Regions from separate parts of the Homo sapiens genome. Here region 2 is linked to region 1. Evidence: fine-mapped expression QTL. A gene starts in region 1. The other region holds a variant in brackets. All regions are shown on one strand. Distances are between the middles of the regions.

The links.
Region 2: its variant is fine-mapped to the expression of SRPRB in esophagus mucosa (GTEx, PIP above 0.99).

The regions. Positions count from the first base shown.
Region 1 is chr3:133,803,781-133,808,169 of GRCh38, reverse strand. SRPRB (SRP receptor subunit beta) reads right to left here and starts at 2,355. Exons shown (of 7, transcript NM_001379313.1): 1 at 2,168-2,355; 2 at 1,467-1,561; 3 at 347-424. The coding sequence starts at 2,321. LOC105374116 (a long non-coding RNA gene) reads left to right here and starts at 2,687. Exons shown (of 3, transcript XR_924513.3): 1 at 2,687-3,082. RefSeq lists enhancers at 1,794-1,903, 1,934-1,983, 2,094-2,303, 2,444-2,503, 2,594-2,703.
Region 2 is chr3:133,755,333-133,759,721 of GRCh38, reverse strand. TF (transferrin) reads right to left here. Exons shown (of 17, transcript NM_001063.4): 5 at 4,227-4,359; 6 at 3,385-3,440; 7 at 2,713-2,891; 8 at 1,776-1,953; 9 at 393-547. Among named protein-coding and RNA genes, the nearest start is that of TF, 11 kb to the right of the region's middle. The variant G/C (reference allele first, on the strand shown) is at 2,145.

The DNA.
Region 1 (4,389 bases):
GAATTTTTGTCCCATGTGCATGTATTACCTATTCAAAACTTAAAAGGTTTAATGCCCACTCTTAAGAACTCATTGTAAAGTTGGAAAGAAGACACAGAAACAAAAAATAAGAATAAAATGTGATATAACATTACTGTACATTAAGGTACAACAATGCAGAGGAGGGCATGATTAAATCTACTGTACAGATTGTCAAGAGAATTTGTCACAAAGAATATGTTTCTCCATAAAAATAAGCTACAAATGGTACTTACATCCTCAGATGAACTCATCCTAAAAATGTCCTTAACTGACACACCACAGTAAAGTAAGACTGTCAGACTCCAAAACTCCACAAACATCTTACCCTGTTATTGTTGACTCTGTATACAGCACAGCTGTCAGTAATGGACGTCTGAGTGTCTCTATAAAGGCCTGTTAACAACTGTAAAAAAAACAAGATGGGTGATATTCAACATTTTAATAGCACACCTAAATTGAGTTATATTATTCTAAGTCTCCCAGGTGTAAGGTTAAGTAAATGAATGCTGCTTCCGACAGGTGAAAAAGACGATATTGATTTTTTTTACCTGTAGAAAAAAATCTAATTAATTGCATATTTTACTCCTCAGTGGAATAAAAACAACATTATTCTCAAAAGACAGTTAGTGGCCAAATTTGCCAAGCTTCTGTAAAGATTTTTAACCAACAAAAATGATTTGAAGCCTGGGCAACATGGCAAAATCTCATCTCTACAAAAAATATAAAAAATCAGCCGGGCGTAGTGTTGCACGCCTGTAGTCCCAGCTACTCGGAGGCTGAGGTGGGAGAATCATCTGAGTCCCAGAGGTCAAGGCTGCAATGAGCAGAGATCTCGCCACTGCACTCCAGCCTGGGCATTGGAGTGAGACACTCCCTCAAAAAAAAAAAAAAAAAAAAAATGGAGGTATTTCTTTAATGGAAGGGAAATAATTTATACTCTCAAAAAGAAGAGTTAAAAAGCAGAAAACCTCTCCTATTCACCACATTAAAATACACTGTTAAAAATACTAAATGTATTAAAAATAAATATTAGTAAAAAGAAGCCTAACTAGCCCACTATGTCAAAGAAGGATCACCCTGTGAAAAAGTGTCTTCGATAAACTGTCCTAAGAATTTGTTAACGAAGGAATTATAAACTGTAGGACACTAGCTTCTATGCCTTCTGCTATTCTGGAATGAAACTAATTAAATAAAATCCTTGAATGTGATAAAGACTAAATATCAGCATCTGGCAAGGGCAAACAGAAAAAAAAAAGGAGAAATGACCAATATTTCTCAATTATGGGTTTCTACGAGTCTTTTTGTTCTCCCAAGTAAGTCAAGAATTAACTTCCAAATTTAACAGCATCAGCTTCTTTTACAAAATAAACCGTGAGATGACAGGAATACTGGGATCTATAAAATTTTCTATTAAGCTTAACAGGGGTGTCAATGAAATCATTTACCCTGACAAAGAGCAACGTTTTCCCGGAATCACAAAGGCCAACAAGAAGAACAGCTCTCTGACTGCTCCTTCTGCTCCGGATTAACTTCCAGAAGACTGTGGAATAGACAGAGAAAAACAACAAAAATTACGCCTTGGGAATCAGTATATGTGCATGGCTGGGGTGGGGAAATTCACAGAAGTCTGTGACGAAACACCTCATTCACCTGGAACTGACTTTTATCATAATGGTTACTATTGCTGTTGTTAGGGATCCACTGAGAGCCAGGCACTGTCAACTGTCAACTTTTCTTTGCAGTCCTTACTCTGACTGGGACTCAGGTGCTATCTCACTACCTTGGTATCCCAGCGCCCGCACGCAAACACGGGAGGCTGAAAGTTGGTGTCAAGACCCTGAGTCTTTGCAGTGAGAACAGCGGAAGGCGAGGAACAGCGCGCTCAAGCGTAACAGGGCAGATGACGAAGAGCAATCTGCGCCCCAAGGACCAGGACGTTAACTCCGGGGGTTGCCCGGCATCCCCCTTAACGCCCAGCTGCTGCCGCTGCTTCAGGAGAGAGGGTGGGGTGTAGACTGGGTGGGTCTCACCCTCCTGATGCCCTCAAGGCGCCCTCTCAGCCCCGCGTCCCCGGCCTGCAGCGGTGCAGCCAAAGCCCGGACCTCTGCCCGCCCCAAACCCGCCATGACCACCGGCCGCCTTTTACCTAGCGTCAGCAGCACCGCAAGAACCGCCACCACTACTGACAACAGCGTTGGGTCCGTCTGCTGCAGCTCCTGCCGCAAGGTGTCTAGGTAGGGCTGGAAGGTGCCCCCGGCACCGCCGCCATCTGCCACCCGGCGCGAGTCCGCGGAAGCCATGGATGAGACGCGTGGTCCCCGGTACAGCAAAAGCGACGTGGCCCTGCACTCTGCGCAGGCGCGGGGAGCAGAGCCTCACGCGAATGGTGGTTCCTAAGCCATAGTCTCTCCCTCAGCCGCGGCGATCCCCCAAGTGCTTGATGGGAGTTGTAGTTCTCTGGGACTCCGTCCTCCTACAGAACGATAGGGGCAGACAGGTTATTTGTCGAGGGACACACACATCTTTTAAGAGATGAGTCAGTCGTCGTCACCTACGTTATGACTGTTGAAAGAATGATGAAATGAATAAAATGAATGAATGGCTCCCGAAACTACCACTGAGGAGTTCCCGACCGTCGCTAAGTGACGTGAGACTTGTGAAGAACTCAAGCATCCTACAAACATTTAATCTGAATTTAATGTGACAAGGGATGTGACAGATGGATGTACGGAGCGATGTGGGAATACATAATGGGACGCGGAGTCCATCATGAGTTCAGAGAAAAGCTTCTGGACATTGGAATTGAGTCCTGAAGAATGAGTTAGCATCTGCGAGTGGTTAAAGGAAAAAAAGGTGCTGTGCAGAAGAAAATGAGTGTAAGAAACGATGTATGTGGGAACCCTAAGTAATTCAGTGCCCCTACACTGTCAATCTAGGGCTGCAAACTCAAATGTCTGCATTAAAGGAAGCAACTAGGAAAATCAACGCCCAGGAGAGCTGGGGCTGTTGAAAACTGCAGGAGGTATTTCTGCTGAAAGTAGGGCCGACCCTATTCAGCCAGGTAGGTGTTATGGGACCTGGGTGGCCGGTTCTTCCAGTTTTCAAGAGAAGCAATAAAGGCAGATTTTTATAGGAAATTTTCCACTTTTGAAATTTTCTGTAGGTAATTGAAAGCATTCAAAAACTTGTGGCCCAAATAAAACACCAAAAGTGGCCAGCCTAGAGGGTCCCAGTTCACAGTCTCTGTCATTAAACAGCTGTCATTGTTTTAAAATGTACACATTATTTAATTTAATTGTATGGCTGAGTAGAGACATGAAGATGTCAGTGTCACTGAAAGATTGAAAAAAGTTTATTACAGTTCCACATTGCCATTGAAAAAGTTGTCAGCATCAAAATGGAGTCACTTGTATTTTTTTTTTTAATCAGAAAAATGGAGCTGGTGAAAGGCCATGGAGGGAGGGTTCTCAGGCACCCATGCCTGATGACAAAAACTGTCACAAAAGACTGCAAAAACCACAGACTTGCACAAAGGCCATCGCAACCTTACACACAAAAAAATACATCTGTTAGGACGGCTACCCAGCAACTCCCTGTCCAACCTAGTACTGATGCCATCCTTGCCATTTGATCCTTGTAGCCAAGGATAATTATCTTAAAACAATTATGGAATCTGACTCATTTTTTCTTTAAAAATCTTTGTCTTCCTTTACACCCCCCTGAATATGCACATAGTTGACTATGGCATGCGTAGTCCCATTGCAATGCCTATTCCAGAATAAATATTATTTTCTTTTAGAGCGTCCCTCTCTGCTTGTTATTTAGCTTGATACCACTCAGGGCCACACAAAACCTCACCATGCACAGGGACAAGGAAAAAGAGAGGAACTGGGGGAGGACCCGGTGACTCACAGCTATTAATCCCAGCGCTTTGGGAGGCCAAGGCAGGAGGATTGCTTGAGGCCAAGAATTCAAGACCAGCCTGGGCAACATAGTGAGACTCTGTCTCTGCAAAAAACATTTTCTTTTTTCTTTTTTTTTTTTTTTTTTTTTGAGACAGAGTCTCGCTCTGTTGCCCAGGCTGGAGTGCAGTGGTGCGATCTCGGCTCACTGCAAGCTCCGCCTCCCGGGTTCACGCCATTCTCCTGCCTCAGCCTCCCGAGTAGCTGGGACTACAGGCGCCTGCCACCATGCCCGGCTAATTTTTTGTATTTTTAGTAGAGACGGGGTTTCACCATGTTAGCCAGGATGGTCTCGATCTCCTAACCTCGTGATCCACCCACCTCGGCCTAAAACATTTTCTTTAATTAAAAAATAATTAGCCAGGCATGGTGGCATATGCCTGCAGTCTCAGCTACTTGGGAGACT
Region 2 (4,389 bases), 48 kb after region 1:
ACCATGCCAGGCTAGGATACTCTTTTGATCAACAAAGCAAATTTGTACCTGATTGGATCCTACCATGTACTCAGGATCTTATCTCAGTGATCGTGGCACACCACTGGTCTCAGGACACCCACACCATGGTCCAGCCTCCCTAAGCAGGCACTGCTCAGCCTGCCCTTTCACCATACACTCATACAAGGAGGAAACTGAGCCCTGTGGGCACCCTTCAGATCCACAAGCTCAAAGATTCTGAACCTCCGGTGGGGCTGTGCTCACATAGTCAGGGCAAGGTTCCTGGGAGCCAGGTTTTTGCATCATTCCCAGGAACACTCCCTAGCTCAGTCTTGGGGGCCAGCAGGCAGCAATGACAGGGACGCTGCCCTAGGAAGGCTGGAGTGACATACCATGATCTTGGCGATGCAGTCTTCGGTGGTCTCTGCTGATACACACTCTATTTTCCCTACACTGTTAACACTCCACTCATCACACTTGAGCCTCTCGTGGTGGCTCAGCGCACACCACTTCACAGGCTTGCATTCATCTGTTGGGGCTTCTGGGCCTATGGCATAAAAAAAGAACAAAGATCAGAAGCGGCCCTAGCTGTTGCCTGGTGTTTGTCAGCACTACTCACTGTCTTCATGCAAATGCTGGGATTTGCCAGCAATAAACAAACAGACCCCATTCAAGGAATTAATCACCTTAGAAAGCAAAGTCAATGCACAATCTCTTGGTTGACTTCTCATTTAAATTTAGTTTTTTATGTCTTCCGAGAAGCCAACTTTCCTCTCCAGCCTCTGGGCACTATATGACCTCTGGCTGTTTTTTTCCTTCTTGTTTTTCAGATAGCACTTAACTACTGGAGGTGTTCTTATTTATATGTTCATTGTTTATTGTCAGGTTTTCTGCAGGAGAACAGAAGCTCCAACACAGAAAGGGCCCTGCCTGTCTTGTTCACCAGGGCATCCTCAGGGTTAGGGCAATGCTAGCACATGGTCAGCATAATAAATGTCTGATGAATAAATGTACATCTGCTCATCTTTCAGACTGAGCTCAAGAGTCACTTCCTCAAGGAAGCTTTGCCTTAACGCCAAGTCCAGGGCCTATTTTTCTTTGTTTTGCAGTCTCATAGGGCCATGGTATTTTGTTGTCATATTTTTCCCCTTTTAAACATATCTCTTACTTTGTAATTCATCATCCAATAGCATGACTATTCATTAAACATTTATCTTCTCCCCAGTTTGAAATTTCCAGGACAACAGAATCAAATATATATTTGTCATGCCATCCTATGTCCAGCACCTAGCAGAGCATATGGCTAGATGTTCAATAAATGTCTGCTGAATAAATGAATGGTCAAGCAAAACCACAGTGACTCAGTGAAATCCAGGACTGGGATCAACCTCTCTTAGAGCACCTCTTCATTATGGTACATGTTGACTGGCTGGAGATGTGCAATATATAGCAATTTTGTTCTATTTCACTTACTCTGTGATAAGCTAATTGCCTTCACAGAGTAGGTAAGGCAGTCCTGATTGATGCAAAGGAAATACTGGAACCAACCCACGTCATTTTAAATGTGGATTTCCTGTAAAGCCCATGGTGACATCAAGGCCATCTCATAATGACTAACGCCATTCAGCATCAGTCTAACACTGGGCTCACAGACAGGTCAGAAAAAGGAGCATCAGGAGAGGCGTGCAGGTCCCTGAAAAGACTCAATCTCTGGCCCCTGTGCTCACCAGGTTTCCCAAGTGCTTGTGGTCACCTGGTTCTTCCCAGGTACTCACATGTGCCTTCCCGTAGATTCCGGATGGCAGTGACATACTCATAGCCCAGGTACATCTTGGCATCCATCCTGGGGGGGACTTTTAAAAACCCGTGGGCAGAGTCCTTAAACAGCAGGTCCTTCCCATGAGGAGAGCTGAATAGTTGGAATTCTTTTGATTTGTCTTTGCCAAAATGTTCCTGTTCATAGAAAAACAGAATAGTGGATGGCAACACAGAAGAAAGGAGGCTGAGAAATGGGACTGAAGAGAAAAGAAATCTCTGCAGGAAACAACATGAAAAAGTTCAAGATGCCAGGAGAGAGGGCAGTCGGACCTGCTCCTGCTCACCCAGCACTTCCTCTGCCTGTAGCCCTCGTGGGTCCGCGATTT[G/C]CCTGAACCTGCTTCTGTGCCTGTCTCCCGGAACGGGTTGAGACATCGGTGAGAACAAGAAACGTGGCTAATCCAGAGGCTGCCCTGTGTGGTTACCAGTCAAACTCTCAGTGGACAGATGGGACGGCTCGGCAAGAGGAAGCTGGCTGAGCCCAAATCACACAGCTCTTGGGAAGTAAAGCCGCTGTGCAGGCAGCCCCCTCACAGCCGGGCTGAGGGGCATGGGGAGAGAGACCATTTCCTTCTGGGAGGGTCATGGAAAGCCTCCTTGGGGAGGGGTTTAGCTTTGGGCCTTGAAGTTTAGGTAGAAAGGAATGCAACAGAGCAATACAGAGCCTCTTCAGGTGTCACCAGCCAGAAAGGCAAGGGCGGCAGACGGTAGCACCACAGCAGGCTCCCTGCTGCTCTGTGGGGAGTCCCAGCTTTTAGAGAACTTAGTGACATGTGGCATGGCTCCCACTGTATCCTGAACACACAGACTTCCAGAGTGACAAGATGGCCAGGAGGAAAACCCCCAAATCCAAGCAGGGAGCACTAAGCTGGAGGGGAGGATGGCAGGTGGGGATACCTGGGCCTGGTTGAGAAGCTCCCAGATCAAGTCCTCCTTGCCGCCCATACTTCGGGCCACGACGGTATGAGAAGGGACCTGGGCCAAGTGGCAGTCCTTGTATTCATCTACCGGCTTCCGGGTGTTGTCCAGGCAAAGCAGCTCATACTGGTCCCTGTCAGCCTTGTTTGCCAAGTTCTCTGGGGAGGGAAAGCCCAGGTGAGCTTAACACAGGAGAGCCATGGGCTGTGGTGCCCATCCTTGAAATTCAATTGATCATAGAAAGTATGAGCTGAGAGGTCTGGAGTGAGCACTGAAGGCCAGAGAACATGCGGGAGAATGACTCGCTCAAGAGCCCACAGCCAGGTAAAGGCTTCTGATGCCCATGTAGCAGTGATTGCTCCTCATTCCACCATGAGCCTGATCTTAGCAGCACCAACCCCCAGTCTTTGGTTATGGCAACACTACCCCAGAGGCAGAGGCACCGTGTGGAGAGATTGAATGATGGAAAGAGGCCCAGGAATCCAGATGGGGACCCCGTAGGTACCTAACTCTGCACAGGTGGAAACCCAGGCAATGATAAAGGAGAAATACAGTATGCTCATTTCCAATTACTGAGCATGAAAAAGGGAACACAGAAAAAGAACACCCACTACTTGGAGTGGCCCTGGTGGATTCTTGTCCCATTCTTACCAAATATAGTCGAGTGCTTGACAAAGGCCACATCCCCAGCACCATCCTTCAGACACCTGGGTCAAAGAAACACATCAGCAGGGCTCCTGCAGGGCAGGCCCTTCTCCTGCACCTGGAGAGTCTGATCACACTGTCCAGCACTCACACTAGGATAGAGCCTGGTGCAGCCCCGTAGCTGAAGCAACACCATGGTGTGCAGACCTCCAGCGTAGTGCTGAGATGGGGGAATGAGCTCACACGAGATAAAAAGCCCTCATAACCCAAAGAAGCAAAATGCAACTGAAGATATTTTCATGTGAAAAGAGCTTTTAAACTTCTGGAATAGAAGATAATGGTATAGTGTCTCCTGAGGGTGAAAATGTGCCTTTGGCTGGTTGTAAAACTTTAGGATATAATCAAGGTAAAAAGAGAAAGCAAGAAATCAGCTTCCCAGATAGAGACGGTGATGGGGGCAGGAGACAGGCAGTGTGCTGAGCAGGTAACACTGCTGAGATTGAGGGAAGAGGGCCAGTCCCTGGACAGTGGGCCCAGACACTAGAGGCATGATTGTCCTTTCAGGCTCTGCCCGATCCACCGAGAGGAGACACTGACCAGGCTTGAGGGCTCTGGGGAGAAAGGAAGGGTCCCCAGGAAAAGGACCTACTTGTCAGGGTCAGATGAAAGGGAACATGGGCTGGCTTGGCCTAGGAGTCCCAGGTTGTGCTTCTGACTCACTGGGAGGGGATTAGGCCACCTCGATGCCCCTGTAGGCAGGCAGGGCTCGGCTTTGGACCAGCAAAGAACTCTCACCCTGAGGACATTTGGCACTTTGGCCACCATGGAGCAGCAGACATCTCACTCACTTGAAGGCTCCCGAGTAGCCGAAGTATTGGTTAAGGGTGGAGCAGCCACACCCTGGACACAGTTGACACAGCTGGGGGAAGTCCGTCCCATCCGCACAAGGGGCACAGCTGCCCGAGAAGAAATTGGCCACTGCTGCTCAGCACAGAGAAATGGACAACAGAG